Homo sapiens: one gene and its partner. The protein of the gene in region 1 interacts with the protein of each later gene in a biochemical or structural test. Each region holds a gene or a part of one and is shown in the gene's direction. Other genes may lie near its edges.

Region 1 (8,361 bases):
TAATTGCTTGAACCTGGGAGGCAGAGATTGCAGTGAGCTGATATGGCGCCATTGCACTCCAGCCTAGGCAACAAGAGTGAAACTCCATCTCAAAAAAAAAGATTTGCCTGTAATCAGCCAGCACCCCCAGCCTTGTGCTCACTTTACATACAAAAATTCTGTTTTTTAGAGCATAAATTGAAGGGCACATTCAAAACTGATACGTAGGCCAGGCATGGTGACTTATGCCTGTAATCCCAGCACTTTGGGAGACCGAGGCAGGTGGATCACTCGAGATCAGGAGTTTGAGACCAGCCTGGCCAACGTGGTGAAACCCCATCCCTACTAAAAAATACAACAAATTAGCCAGTCACAGTGGTGCGCACCCATAGTCTCAGCTACTCGTGAGGCTGAGGCAGGAGAATCACTAGAACCTGGGAGGCAGGAGGTTGCAGTGAGCCGAGATCATGCCACTGCACTCCAGCCTGGGTGACAGAGTGAGACCTTGTCTCAAAAACAAAGACAAAACCAAAACAAAACAAAACTGAGAAGCAACAGATTGATAAGTGACACAGTTACACTGGTCAGTCTCTTCAGCTAATACCCATTGTTTTTTATTATTGGAGATTCATAATGTGTTTTCTTTCTTTTAAAAACTTTTTTCGGAAATGGTAATTTCTCTCTTTTTTTTTTTTTTTTTTTTTTTTTGAGACAGGGTCTCACTCTATCACCCAGGCTGGAGCGCGGTGGCACAATCTCTGCTCACTACAACCTCTGCCTCCTGGGCTTGAGCAATCACACCTCAGCCTCTTGAGTAGCTGGGACAACAGGCACATGCCACCATTCCTGGCTAATTTTTAGTAGAGACGGGGTTTCACCATGTTGCCCAGGCTGGTCTCGAACTCCTGACCTCAAGTAATCTGCCCACCTCAGCCTCCCAAAGTATTGGGATTACAGGCGTGAGCCACTACGCTTGGCCTCATAGCGTATTTTAATATTGGTTGAGACTAGCCTTGCTCATTGATCTTCTCTTAGCGTTTACTTGGTTATTCTTGCTTATTTTTCCATAAGAACTTTCATTTTTATTTAATCCTGTGTTTTTTGGTTTTAAAGACTATTTTATAATAAATTTTCGTGATTAAACTCTTGTGCTTAAACTCTTGATTAAACAAACAAGCAATGAAGAGATGAATGAAGCAGAAAATGTGAGTTTCATGCCTCACATTCCCACTCCTCTGAGGTTAATATTTTCATGTATATTTTTCAGGATGTATTTGTAATCTCATACAAACGTATGTATTTTTTTAATGAAAATATTTAAATTTTCATAGTTAACAGCTGTAGCTCTAACTTGGCAATATCTTCTGTGTTTCTTTACAGCCATTATACTTGCCCACGAATCTTTGAGAACATTATAATGACCTTTGTGCCTCTTCTTGCAAGGTGTTTTCTCAGCTGTTATCTCAAGACATGGATATAAAAAACTCACCATCTAGCCTTAATTCTCCTTCCTCCTACAACTGCAGTCAATCCATCTTACCCCTGGAGCACGGCTCCATATACATACCTTCCTCCTATGTAGACAGCCACCATGAATATCCAGCCATGACATTCTATAGCCCTGCTGTGATGAATTACAGCATTCCCAGCAATGTCACTAACTTGGAAGGTGGGCCTGGTCGGCAGACCACAAGCCCAAATGTGTTGTGGCCAACACCTGGGCACCTTTCTCCTTTAGTGGTCCATCGCCAGTTATCACATCTGTATGCGGAACCTCAAAAGAGTCCCTGGTGTGAAGCAAGATCGCTAGAACACACCTTACCTGTAAACAGGTAAGTCCAGTCTTCATTCTGAATTATAGTTGCTAGCCATTTCTCAAATCACTTTATGGTTGAGTGAGAAGGAAATAATATGTTAGACAAGGTCTTTATTGTATTAATTACATAGTTTACTTACAGCACCCAAAACACAGGATGCCCTGTTCTATTCTGATATTTTAGTTCTCATTAAAAACTGGTATGTGTACATCAGTGTTGTGGGGAGAATTTGCTATCATGACTATTGTCTTTATACAGTAAATACTGAACTTAAGTCACTCCTTTTCTTTTTTTGAGACAGGGTCTCGCTCTGTCACTCAGACTGGAGTATAATGGCACGATTGCGGCTCACTGCAACCTTCACCTCCTGGGTTCAAGCAATTCTCGTGCCTTAGTCTCCCGAGTAGCTGGGATTACAGGCGCGTGCCACCACGCCCAGCTCATTTTTTAAATTTTTAGTAGAGACAGGGTTTCACCATGTTGGCTAGGCTGGTCTTGAACTCCTGACCTCAAATGATCCACCTGCCTTGGCCTCCCAAAGTGCTGGGATTACAGACGTGATGAACACTGTGCCTGGTCTGAACTTAAGTCACTCTTAATGGAGTTATTTGGATTTGAAAAATGAATTTTTACTTTACTTTCAGTTTCAAAGTCTTCTTATAGTGAAACCACAATTTAATGTTCATGACAAATTGTTTCCAGGATAAAAGTAACTGTGATAGTATTACAACTTAAATGAAATTCTAGACATGCGAAGCATGAAAAGATAGATGATTGGTATAAGCTTTTTAACCATGAACTAAAATAATAACATTATATAAAGATTGGTGGAAACTATTGAAGTTTAGGCTTCAGTTGACATTCCCTGAAGTTAAAAAGGATATGTGTACTCTTTAAATGCAAGGTAACATAATGGATTATTTCCATCTAATTATTAATATTTCTAATGATAATCATAGGTATGAAGGGAATGGATAGTATAATGAGAAAGGAGAGGGGGAGATAAAAATCTAAAAGTACTAAGGGCATGTTGGATATTGAAATTCACTACTTTCAAATATTATCATAAAACTTTGAGACAGTAACATTGCACCATTATTTTTCTTCTTTTAAAAACATTTTACTCATTGGTAAAGAGAATATAAACATTGTGGATAACTTTTTTAAAGTAATGGTTTGTTTTTTTTTTCTCCTTCCTCCTTTAAAGGAAGACATATTTTGTTTCTGAGCATGAATTATAATCAAAGTTCTGCTAATTTTTGGGCAAATTAATCCATTATATAATTACCTTCATTTATAAATCAATAATACCTTTACCATTCCCTTTCCAAAAGAACCATGCCTGGCAACATCAGGAACTAGCCAGATGTGTTTTGGAGGCTGCCTGGGGATCCCTTGTTAGACTTTTCGTTCCTTTATGAACCTCTTGCCTGTGGTCCAGCATTGAGCCTCTGCTTCCTTCCAAGCCTTTCCAGGCCAGGCACTTGCTTGTTCTCTCTCTTCTCTTCTCTCTTCTTTTTTCTCTCTCCCTTTCTCTTCTCTTCCCCCTTTTTCTTGTCTCACATTCATCTCAAGGTAACTTAAAGTCCATTTGTTATTCCTCTTAAAGTTATTTTTATTTTATTTTTTTGAGATGGAGTCTCACTCTGTTGCCCAGGCTGGAGTGCAGTGGCACAGTCTTGGCTCACTGCAACCTCTGCCTCCCGGGTTCAAGCAATCTCCTGCTTCATCCTCCAAAGTAGCTGGGATTACAGGTGTGCACCACCATGTCTGGCTAATTTTTGTATTTTTAGTAGAGATAGGGTTTCACCTTGTTGGCCAAGCTGGTCTCGAACTTCTGGCCTCAGGTGATACGCCCACCTTGGCTCCCCAATGTGCTAGGATTACAGGCATGAACCATTGCGCCCAACCTGAAAGTTATTTTAAATCTAGACCTTTATCTGAAATTGCAGAGTGTGAGATGTTTGTTCTCCATTTAAATGGGAACTTCAAATGTCTGAAGGGCTGCTTAGCAATGCTGTTGGGAATGACTGATGTTTGGAAGTGGTTGAATGCCTTCACACCCATCCATGCAGCATTCGTGAACTCTAGTAACTACAGAAGACCAATGCATATCCTGCCTGTGGTTCAGACCTGTGGGTAAGATTTGATCTGGCCACTCCTTTCATTACACTTAGAGATGTAGCTCCCACCCCATGGCTATGACTGGTCTTCGGCAGTGACAAATGCTCATCAGCATCACGTGGATGGGCATAAACTCACCTACCCACTTTCAAACATTAGTCATTCCCCACAGCGTGGCTCTTTGTAGATATGATATCAGTATCAAAAGCTTTGCTGTATCAGATTTCCGGGAATATATTTACCAGGAACCCTGGAGGAAAAAGAGATTAAATTAGGCAATGTTCATGCTATTTTTTTTTCCTAGAAAGCCCTTCCTTTCCCTTTTATGCTCTGTTCAATGGATATTTTCTTTGCTCCCTAGAGAGACACTGAAAAGGAAGGTTAGTGGGAACCGTTGCGCCAGCCCTGTTACTGGTCCAGGTTCAAAGAGGGATGCTCACTTCTGCGCTGTCTGCAGCGATTACGCATCGGGATATCACTATGGAGTCTGGTCGTGTGAAGGATGTAAGGCCTTTTTTAAAAGAAGCATTCAAGGTACAAGAGAATTGTTAACTGCTTCTTTAGTTTCCTACTTTTGATTTCAAACAATTTTGCAGAGATGACTTGGCAGAAATGTCACTACTGGCCTGTTTGGCACACAAAGTATTTGATGAGCAGTTCAGAGGATCATGTGTGTTTGGAAGTGGGTTGGGTGGTGGGGTGGAATTGCAGATTTCTACCCCAGAACCCCAAGATTATACAGCCAACTCGAATGGGTCTTACCCCTCGTTCACCCACATGGGTGTTGGATAGAAGACATCGAGTTACAACCTTGTGAAGATGTCTCTTGGAAAAAATGTGCTCACAAGGAGTTGCAAAGATTGTTTCTTTCTTTTACTTAAATTTAATATATAGCATGCTTAACAGTCATGATGGTGGGCTGGCTCCTGAGGAAGAAAGAATAAACACATTTTTTGGAAATGGTCAGAAATCAGGAATTCAGCTACAGTGGACTTTGAGAATTGATCTAGACACATTTCTTCCCCTAGGCTAGGAGGGTCTCAGTTCACAATCCCCTTGTTTTCTGGGCTGTGTTTAGATTATTTCCCTAACTTTCTCTAAACGCCTTCTGGATTTTTTTTTTTAAATCAACTTGTTGATGAAAAGAATCAAACTCTGTAAAATATTTGAAGAGATTTATTCTGAGCCAAATATGAGTGACAAATGGCCTGTGACATAGCCCTCAGGAGATCTGAGAACATGTGCCCAAGGTGGTCAGGCCACAACTTGGTCTTATACATTTTAGGGAGACATAAGGCATTAATCAATGCATGTAAGATGTACATTGATTCAGCCTGAAAAGGCAGGACACCTGAAAGCAGGGGCTTCCAAGTCACAGGCAGTTCAAAGATTTTCTGATTGGCAATTGATTGAAAGAATTATTATCAGTAGGAAGCAATGATTGGGTTACAATAAGGGATTGTGGAGACCAAGGTTTTATCATGCAGATGAAGCCTCCAGGTAGCAGGCTTCAGAGAGAATAGATTGTAAATATTTCTTAGGGGTCTTAAAGGGTCTGTTCTATCAGTGATTCCAAAAGGGGAGGGAGGGTATAATGAACCATGTCTGTCTCCCTTGTTCCATCATGGCCTAAACTTATTTTTCAGGTTAACTTTGTAATGCCCTTGGCCAAGAGGAGGGACCCATTCAGATGGTTGAGGGGCCTTAGAATTTTATTTTTTGGTTTATAAACTTCAAGTTGTGCACCCCTGATTTCAAGGCTGGTCAGCTCATCTCCCTGCATGTGTCTTTGCTACACTCCTTCTCTCGTACCAGCCCTGATTTGCTGAAGTCACTTTCTTGCTTACTCTTGTTTTCTCTATTTGCCCCATAACCTGTCCCTCAACTGCTCCCTCCCAGGCAACACCCTATGTTTCCATCTGAAAGCTCCCTTCCTTTTTCTATCAAAGCCCCAATGCTTTGTTCTTTGCCAGTTAAGAAAAGCAACGTTGAGAGAATTCATAGTGTGTAAATGGCAAATAGCAATTTACTAAATTAACTCACCCATTGATAACTCTAAGAGGATGTTTTACCTTAAGCAGAGAAATACTGATAGAATCCAGGATATGGTGAGGAGTGAAATGTTGGTAGTCACCTTCCTACCTGTCCCCTGAAATTCACCCTGTATGAATGGCAGCCTCTTTGTCCTGGATTTTATAATTACTAGCTCTGCGACTTCACCTCCTAGCCTGTTTCCTCCTCTGTGAAATGGAGATACTCATAGGGATTTTCTAAAGATGAAATAAGGTTGATTATATGAAAACATATTCAGTGCTCAAATATTTTATTTGTGACAATCTTAACAGTAGATTATAAGGCCAAGTCCATTTCCTGGCTATATGATAAGAACAATATTGATTTTCTGAAATTCTGAACTGAATTCTTGATACGATGACTATTTTGTATCTTGCTGAGTTTCTAGGATTTTACCCCTTAAGAACGTTTGGACCTATTACTACTAACCATATCTTTTAAAAAGAGATCCTTCTTTTTTTTTTTTGCTTTTGGGGAAACATTGGTCTGCTTGAAACATCTTTGACCCCTGAGACTACAGCTAATAACAATTGAAAGTAAATTTCCTTTGCTTCTCTATGTTGTTTCTTCCTTCCTGCTGCATCAGACAGGAATGTCAAATTCTAAATGTGCAAAGAGGAAAGAGTTAAAGCTGTTACAGTTGTACAGTTGTAGTGCCTAAATGATCCTTTCTTTGCATGCTTCCTGTCTTTGATATAAGTGCATTACAGTAACTGAAAGTGGCCACTTATTTTTAAAATTGTCTCAAATAGGCCAGGATGGTACAGTATTGAGAAATTCCTTGCATGTAACTTTTTTTTTTTTTTTTTTTTTTTTGGAGATGGAGTCTCATTCTGTCACCCAGGCTGGAGTGCAGTGGCACAATCTCGGCTCACTGCAAGCTCTGCCTCCCAGATTCACACCATTCTCCTGCCTCAGACTCCCAAGTAGCTGGGATTACAGGAGCTGGCCACCACACCCTGCTAATTTTTTGTATTTTTAGTAGAGACAGGGTTTCGGCATGTTAGCCAGGATGGTCTCGATCTCCTGACCTTGTGATCCGCCCGCCTCGGCCTCCCAAAGTGCTGGGATTACAGGTGTGAGCCACCGCACCTGGCCCATTCTTATGTTTTTTATAATTTTAAACTTGTCTTGCTAACTTGATTTATAAGCTAATTGACCATATCTTAGTCATGTACCTGTCCCCTTCACTGTACAAATGCACTGGAAGCTGTGTTGTGCTTGCTTTTCCATTGATACTTTGTTGGCTTCTTCACACAATGAGTTGCCATCAGAGTGATAAGTGCTGTTGTTTCTCTACTGGGTTATGGAGCACAGAGGAAGGAGGACATAGGGAGAAGGACCTCATCACTTCATCTGGTCCAGATGACAGCATGGCTTATTTTTTGAGCTTATCCTTTACTTTTTGTTCTCTTTCCTATTGGTGTTCATTTAACAAATATTTATTGAGCATTGTACCAGGCTCTACGGATGCAGTGGTGAACAAGACAATAGATTATAGATTCCATGAGGGCAAGGATTTTTGTCCATTTTGTTCACTAGTGGCACTTACCAATTCCTTGAATATGATTTTTCAAAATTAATTGGGCTTATACACAGAGTTCTGTATCATTTTTCACTTAATATTGTCGTATAAGCATTTCTGTTGTTAAATTTCCAGAGACCCTTTTCACAACTGCACAACTGTGTAATATTCTATCTTATGATCAGATTTAATTTATTTAACTCTTTATTATTGAAGGCCCTATCAATTATTTTCATTGTTTTAATGCTATGGTTACTTTATTTGTTCATGAAGTTTTGAAAAAAATAAGTTTCTCTGGATATGTTTTTAGAACAAATCTGTGGGGTCAGAGTGCATTAATGTTTAAAGTTCTTGACAGATGTTTTCAAGTGTTCAAGTCTTAAGAAGGTTGTACAGACTTGCTCTTTTACCAGCAGTGTGAGTGTCGCTTTTTCCAACCTCTTGGTAGCATTGACTCTTATCAAAAAGAAAAAAACCTTGCTACATTGATACGTGATGTATAGTATCTTTTGGTTTCAATTTGCTTCTCTTTATTAGTGAGGTAAATGTTTTCTCATAAATCTATCTGCCATTTGTATTTTCTCTTTTATCTTCTTTATTCAGAGATTTTGCCCGTTTTTATATTGGGTTCTGGCATTTGCTTGATAAATTTATTGTGTGCTTTATATATTAACCTATTATTACATGTATGACAAATATTTTTTCCACTTGACTCTGATTTTGATATGCAGAAATAGTTAATCTTTAAATAGTCAAATATTACCAACTTTGATAGTTTTGTGTATAGTTTTTAAGCCTAAAAAAAGTCCTTTCATACCCAGGCATTATATAAACTTTTGCGCA
Region 2 (8,361 bases), on another chromosome or scaffold:
TTCCCCTTTCCCAATTTTTTAAAGTATTAAATGTAAAAGCCACCATTTTGAGTAAGATGTCTGCATATTTTGCTTTTTTTCCCCTCCTTTCCAATGGTTTAGCATTTAGGGCCCTTCACTTGACTCACTCTTTCCATGGTAACTATACACAATGCTGGCGATGGTGCCCGTTGGCGGTAAGTGAACAAAAGCACTAGAGAAGAAGCTTTTAAAAATGTAATTACAAAACAATTAAATAAGAAAGAAAAAGTCCATCTGCCATCTCACATTAACACTACAAAATGTGATTTGACTTGTTGTTCCTCTTCCTTTTCCTTTCCCCCTTTTATTTTCAATGCTGTTGAGTAATGCCGCCTGGATTTTGGATGTACATATTGTTTTGTAGCGGTCTGAGCTGTTTGATTACTGACTTCATGGTGATTTTTTTCCCCTTGCACATCTTACTCAGAGTTACTGAACTCCAGTTTGGCTGGTTTTATTAATGCACTTCCTGCCCCTACATCCTTCCCTACTTTTCCTGTTTCCCAAACCCCCGTTTGTAGCTCTGACTGTTCTTTCTTTGCCCGTTACACCCTTCCTGACTTTCTCTTTTCTTTTTCCCTACCTTACTCTCTTTTTCCGGATCCTTGTTCCTGTCCCTTTCCCTATTCTTCCTTTCCCATCCCTTCAGTTACACGCAGCTGTTGGTCTCTTTTGCTGACTGGTGGTTTCTGATTGGTTCTGGCCATTTTTCCTTTTAAGTGCTTGGTTGCTTTCTGCTCCAGCAGCTGGTTTCAGCTCTTGCTCCATTCTAATCCTTGTCTGTGAGAACCTTGCTTTTCAGTTTCTCCCCTCTTTCCAAAATTGATTGTTTTTTCTTTCTTTTATTTGTGTGTGTGTGTTTTTTAACTGCATGCTCTCAGTCTCATCATTGTTGTATCCCATTCTTTCTTTTTAAATGTGAAACGTTTATATTATTTGGTGGGCGAAGCTAGAGTAAATGGAGTTTCAAGCTCTTTCCTCATATGGGGGATTATCACTGTACAAATCTTAAAAGACATAGGAAGAGGTTTTTTTTTTAGTTCTAATTCTACCTAAAATTGGTCTTTTCATAACAAAAATTTATTACCATACAAATTGAACACAATGTAAATTTGAAGAGGCAAAAATAAGACATTTATATTTTATGCTTCTTTTTTCAATTGGCATGTTTTATGACCTGACAACACAGTATAAGTCAAGTTCTATGGTGGAGCTTTACCCTCCTTGCAAGAGCTTTGAGACTGGTTCTGTCACTGGGCTGCAGTATGCTGACATCTTAGTTCCATTCATCTTTTCTTCAGCAGCAGCATCTTTGTAACACCTACTTACTCTAGCACTGAGAATGCTTTAAAATATGCAGTTCTGTAATGAGGGTGGAGAGTACCATAAAACAAAATAAATAAACACTTTATTTTCTCAATTCTTTTAAGTGCCTACTTTAAAGGCTTTCTTAAAAGCTTTGTTCTTAAATTGATAGACCATGTAGTCTAGAAAATTCAGAATGGTCCTGAAGGCTGTCAGCAGGGGAATCTTAGGTTTCTATATTTGTTTACTTACCTCAGACAGTAAAAATCTCTGACAGACATATTTAAAATGCTGAACATTAGGACAGGTGAAATCAGATTTATTTTATCACCTTTCCATCAATCTATTTCATAACCCATGTGGCAAGCCTCTGTTTTATTAACAGACTTCAAAGTGAATTGCTAATATAGTTTCCTATTTACTTTTTTCTGTGTTTTCCTTAGTGCAGAGATTTCTCTGTTAAAAAGATGTCCAAAGATCTTGCAAATGTATTTTCTTTGGAGTACTGATATTTGGAAACCAAGAAACTCACTTTACTCTTGTTATCCTCATTTGATAAGAACTTTAATTAAAATACTATATATTAATATTTTATATTGCTGTGTTAATTATTTAAATCACTGCTCTCAGAAATTTACATTTTAAACTAAATACTCTGTTATTGGATGTGCAACTTTATGTTCCCTAATGTGGTCCACTTCTTCCCTGCCCTTTTTTCTCCTTGTTATTTTTAGGTGAATAATGCTACAGCACGTGTAATGACCAATAAGAAGATGGTCACACCATATGCAAATGGTAAGAAATTATAATCTTCGAAAGAGTGTTTATTCTTGTGTAAATATATGAAGTTTTTATAAACTTCTAAGAATGTCTTTATTTCCGTCTTAAGACAGTTTGATTTGTGTTGAAGTAGTCTCTTTACCTGGGAGAGTATTTTATTTTTACAGAATAACTTTGTCATTACAATTGAGCTAAGTTTTTAGTTATTAAGGTGTTATGTTCTAAGTAATGTTCATCTTTTACACAGTGCAAACATGCTATCTAGTTGCCTATTAACCCAAATTGGATCCCACCTGAGCACCTTCTTTTTCAGCTGCTGTAGCTCTTTCTAATATGTTAGACTTGTCCGTAATACCCCTGGATGCCCACTGACTCTTACTTTTAGTTCTGACTTTCATTCATCTGAGCATAAGTGGAATAAATTAGGAGGATATTTTAATCACTTTTATAATTCTGGACCTGTTGCTCTCCTTAGCCCTAGAGATAACAGCCATGGGTATGGTTGTGTGTGTATCATTTTCTGTTTCATGATTACATATTATATAGTAAGGTTTATAAGTTTTTCTCATTGAGAAGGAAATTTTCTATGAATAATTTGTTACATCAGTTACCAAATTTAATCTAGACTCATGGTCTCTGAATGAGATGGAATATAAATTTAATCTGTAGCCCAGTGGTGGTTTTGCAGACTGTTCTGCAGAGCCAGTTTGGGAGAGAAAAAGGAAACCAAATGGATTGAATTCTGAGGTCTCAGCTGTACTTTAGTCTGAGCAATTAGGGTTCTGCATAAGCTTTTACTAATATCTAGAATAAAGGGGGGAGTTTCTGCTGGAGTTTTTTTTTTTTTTTTTTTGAGACGGAGTCTCGCTTTGTCACCCAGGCTGGAGTGCACTGGCGCAATCAAGGCTCACTGCAAGCTCTGCTTCCCAGGTTCACGCCATTCTCCTGCCCTCAGCCTCCCGAGTAGCTGGGACTACAGGCGCCCGCCACCACACCTGGCTAATTTTTTGTATTTTTAGTAGAGATGGGGTTTCACCGTGTTAGCCAGGATGGTCTCAACCTCCTGACCTCGTGATCCGCCCACCGTGGCCTCCCAAAGTGCTGGGATTACAGGCGTGAGCCACCATGCCTGGCTCTGCTGTTTTTTTAAAAAGTTTGAACCCACTGCTAGAGTATGGCTGTATGTGCTAATAATGTCTTAAATCAAGGAGAAATGTATCCGTATTGACTATATCCCATAAAGTCTTCAATAAATATATTTAGCCCAGCTTTTCACATAGATGATACAAATTTATCAGCATAATTTGCATTTTTCCTTACTCCTTTTATCGGTATGATACCACTGCCTCCCACTTTACCTCTTATTTTCTTTTCACTGCTCTTACAAAAACAAGTCTCTACAATTTTGATAAAAACTCAAAGTAAACAAAATAGAAAGGAGAGGCAAAGAATGTCAAATTTTCTTTACATCTAAGGGAAATATTGTGACAGAAAGAGCCTCTGACTGGAATTCAGAAAACAGACGTTCTCCTTCTAGGTTTGACTCTTTATTTACTCCGTGACAGTGGACCAGTTTTTTAACCTAATTCTGTTTTCATATTTATAAATTGAGACCACAGATTTTTGGCACCAGGATTTTTTAAGAAATTATTGAAACTCAACCCTCCCAGCTTATTATTAGGAAATGAGACCCAGAAAAGTATAGTATTGACCTCAGATTGCAGATGTGGTATCTATTTTACCTTCCTCTTTGGGTTTTGTGAAGGTCAAAGGGCATCTGTGAAAATACATTGTAAATTTTCTAAAACTAAATATATTCAAAGTATTACTAACAACATGTCAATATACATCCATTATATTGATTTTTGTTTTTGTTTTGAGGCAGAGTCTCTCTGTCACCTAGGCTGGAGTACAGTGGTGCGATCTCAGCTCACTGCAACCTCCACTTCCCGGGTTCAAGCGATACTCGTGCCTCAGCCTCCAGAGTAGCTGGGATTACAGGTGTGTGCCACCACATCCGGCTAATTTTTGTATTTTTAGTAGAGACGAGGTTTTGCCATGTTGGCCAGGCTGGTCTCGAGCTCCTAGACTCAGGTGATCCCTCCGCCTCAGCCTCCCAAAGTGCTGGGATTACAGGCTTGAGCTACGGTGCCTGCCCATTATGTGGATTTAAAGGGAATGCTCAGGCAATAGTGGCATTGGTAGGAAAGAAAAAGGTTATTTTTTAAAATATTATTCTAAATTAATATTCAGGTTTAGTAGGCAAGAAACCTTCTGCTATTGTGTTAAAGGTCCTAAGAAGAATTTGTTGGGTTCCTCCTAATGAATTCTCAGTCAGCATTCTCATTTAGGTTGGTTGGAATCTCTTAATTTGTGCAGAAATGTTGCACAGTATTTGTGTAATTTGATGTTGCAGAATATTTGTGTTCTTACAATTCAAGTAGGATTTGAACCTAGATTTTGCCAGAATTTTATGTGGAATATTGAAGAGACATTGCATTTTATGAGCACATAAAATGATGAATAAGAGATTGGATTGAATCAGAGTGAATAGGTTTTCACTTGAATAATGTCTTGCTTACAGTCATTTAAATCTGGTAATTTCAATAATTCTTTTGAAAAGGCCAATTGTGGCTGGACGCAGTGGCTCAAGCCTGTAATCCCCAGCACTCTGGGAGGCTGAGGCGGGTGGATCACCTGAGGTTAGGAGTTCAAGACCAGCCTGGCCAACATGGTGAAACCCCATCTCTACTAAAAGTATAAAACTAGCCAGGCATGGTGGCACGTGCCTGTAGTCCCAGCTACTTGGGAGGCTGAGGCATGAGAATCACTTGAACCCAGGAGCCGAGGTTGTGGTGAGCCGAAACTGCGCCACTGCACTCCAGCCTGGGTGACAGAGCAAGACTCTGTCTCAAAAAAAAAAAAAAAAAAAAAGAGGAGGCCAATTCTGGCCTTTTTCTTTTCATTCGTATATTTATAGAATAGTGTGGCACAATGCTAGGGTCTTAATATAAAAAGACAAATGAGTCAGAAAATATATAATATAGAGTATTTTTGCTTATATGTAAAATTCAGTTAATATTGATTAAAGTTTTCATGTGGAATTCTACTTTTATTCACTCGCAGTGAGCAATCGTATATTATTCCTTTTTAAAAAATACTTGCCATATTCCTATAAATATAAAAAAGGGAAAGAAGAAATAAAGTTGACATTAAACATAATGTTATTTGGAAACTCTTAATATTTATAAATATTTAAGCTAATGTTCCACAGTATTCTGGTGTTCTTTAGCTAAGAAGTCTGATTAACTTAAAGGTGATTATTACACATTAAAGCCTCAGAAAACATGCACTGAAGTTGGGAATGTACCTTGAATTTTACTATTTCATGTCTTTCCTTTTTTAGTTGGTGAACCCCAGTAAAATCCCAATGGTAAATCCGAGTAAAAGTGGATTTCAGTTTACCTGGAATACCAGCATTGTATAGCCAAACATGGAGTCAAAGATCTAGGTTGAATTTGAGTTCAGCCCATGGATACCTTTATTAAAACAACTAGAGTAATAAACAGGGTTGAGAAAATGCATCACAGCATGGTTCAGAGTGACATATAGTCGGCCTTCTTTTTTTAAATGAAGGATAGGTCATCCAGGGTAATTCTGTGAGAACACTTTACCAAACTCTAGGATTTATTTCTATTTATTTTTTCTCCTCTCATTCCCTCTCCATCTTCCTCCTCCCAACATCATGACACCTGCCAAGCCCCCCAGCCCCAGCCCCTCATTATCTCTTCACTGTGTCCTAGTTCTACTACTGTTACTCTCTCATATAAACCCCAAGCTGGAATTCCAAAGAGAAGTTGATAATAGGCAAAAATAGCCCCAGAGATGGCTGAAGCCAACTTGACATGCACTGATCATCCCTTTCCTCAAACAGTCTTAAATGCTTACCTTCCATTTTGTGTGTTTCAGGTTGGAAATTAAGCCCAGTAGTTGGAGCTGTATATGGTCCGGAGTTATATGCAGGTAGTATTTAAGTAAATGTTTCCACTTGTGCTATTTAATTGTAATAGCATCTGCTGTTTTTCAATTTGTGACTCCTTTTTAATCTTCTTGCATTTTTAAATTTTTTAAAAATCCAATCAGCATCCAGCTTTCAAGCAGATGTGTCCCTAGGCAATGATGCAGCAGTGCCCCTATCAGGAAGAGGGGGTATCAACACTTACATTCCTTTAATCAGTAAGTAGCCTATGTTGGCCTGGCATGGATTTTGACTGTTGTGAGTGAACTATCATGTACTGTTTTTTTTTTTCCTAGTACAGTACATAACTGAAATGGAAATTTCTTGAGAGGGATATTAAATACTATCCCAGTGCCCTGTCCTGCTTAACCTGTGCTAGAATTTTCCTGACCAAATATTAAGATTGCACAAAGCAGAAATAGTTGGAAAAGGTAGAGGGGGTAAGGGCATATGAAGAATATTTTAGTCTGTACTTGACGATAAAGAAAACAAAAGAAGCAAGTATGTGTAGAGCATATTATACATTTCCTCTGCGAGTCAGCCACAGGTTCTCCAGCAGAGGATCACTTAGAAGTACTTCCAGTATTATTGATTATTCCCAGCTCTCTTGATCTCTCTAAGTCATTTTGACCTGAGCCATTTTACTCCAGCAAGAGGTATAATTAAACAGGATTCAGTGGACATGGAATCAATGTCTCTGCATGCTTTCCAGAGGACAGCACACTTAAAATAGGCTCTTAGAAATTGTCTGCCTCTTTAAAGGATATGAGGCCCCTAGAAATTGTCTGCCTCTTTAAAGGACAGGGTAGGAGTTGTTTCCCTCACCTTACATTTGTGGATTAAAATGTTTTAAATAAAAGAATGAAATTGACTAATGAAATGAAATGTCTAAAGACTATTATGTGCCTTAGAGGTTGGTACCATGTAAAAATATAAAAAGAATGTTCTTTTGAGTAATAATTATTATGTGGACATAGTAACATTGGGAAGCAAGGTTAATAACTGACCGGTTGAAGAGTTTGTGTCAATCTGATTTAGACTGCCCACAGTAATTAAAAGTCTGTCTCTTATTATGGCAGTCATTCTCAGAGCTTCTTGACCTGTTTCTCAGCAGCTTGCATTGTAAAGCTGAAATTGAGAAGGAACAGAGAAGCTCACTCAAGATTTGTGATGAATGAGGCATGGAATCTTTTGCTTTTGCATGTTGGGTCTCTCTTTCCATTTCTTCCCCACTGAGAGACCCAGGGTAGAACGTTTATTGAATGCATGCCACCTTTTCCAAAAAGGTGTGGTTCGTATCTTTCCATCTTTTCTATAATTGGTTCATAGCAAGTTGTGACTGTGCACCTTCTATTGAATGCAAGTTGAAATTTCTGTCATATTTTGGGTCTCCCTTTAGTTCCTGGCTTCCCTTACCCTACTGCAGCCACCACGGCAGCCGCTTTCAGAGGAGCCCATTTGAGGGGCAGAGGGCGGACAGTATATGGTGCAGTCCGAGCGGTACCTCCAACAGCCATCCCCGCCTATCCAGGGTAAGCGTTAGATTCCAAAATCAGTATGTTTCTAAAATAAGCAGTTGGACCAAAAAAGAATACCATGGCCCTTTCATAACTTCTGGGATGTTGCCGTGTCACAGAGTAGGCATTCAGTGAATATTTGCAAATTAACAGATTAGATGACAAAAAACAAAATATACCATCATCAGAATGTGACAAACTGTCAATTCATTATAAGTCTTCATTTTGGCCACCTTAAGCCCTCATGGTAATGGCTTAAGACAGTAGCCAGAACCGTCTTGTGTTTACTAGCAGTGTGTTGGCATGAAGTTCACTCAGAAGCGCACGAATATGGATTAACATTACTGCAGAGAACCAAAAGAGGAGCTCAAGATTGTAGTACAAGCCTGCATCTGCTGTGTTCACCTCCTTATCACCACCCCGTGTTGGGGCAGAGGCTGTCACATGTGTCCTCCCCTTTGGTTTCACTGCCTGGGTGGTGAGCAGCAGAGCTAGTTACCCACAATGGATTTGCTTTCTTTGTAGGAAACGGATTAAAAGAGGTTAATTCTAAGATGAACCAAGTCCAATTGAATCAAGGGAGAAAGGGAGAAGTAGGAAGAATTAAACTGCAGTTGGCTTCTGAATGATGGTAAAACAGCGACTGTAGCTGAGCATCCTTCACCGTTTGATTTTTTTATGGAGGGTGTCTCATGCAGTGGAATGATTCCATAGCAACAA

Evidence for each region. Proteins that work in one complex are often made in the same cells at the same time.
Region 2: the proteins of ESR2 (region 1) and RBFOX2 form a complex in vitro, tested with the Homo sapiens proteins (one study listed by BioGRID).

The regions. Positions count from the first base shown.
Region 1 is NC_000014.9:64,276,074-64,284,434, reverse strand, and holds part of ESR2 (estrogen receptor beta), read left to right. Parts: intron 1-1,359; 5' UTR 1,360-1,449; coding exon 1,450-1,811; intron 1,812-4,281; coding exon 4,282-4,454; intron 4,455-8,361.
Region 2 is NC_000022.11:35,759,183-35,767,543, reverse strand, and holds part of RBFOX2 (RNA binding protein fox-1 homolog 2), read left to right. Parts: intron 1-2,060; coding exon 2,061-2,121; intron 2,122-6,075; coding exon 6,076-6,129; intron 6,130-6,249; coding exon 6,250-6,342; intron 6,343-7,511; coding exon of another isoform or gene 7,512-7,523; coding exon 7,524-7,656; intron 7,657-8,361. UniProt on the Homo sapiens protein: RNA-binding protein that regulates alternative splicing events by binding to 5'-UGCAUGU-3' elements. Prevents binding of U2AF2 to the 3'-splice site.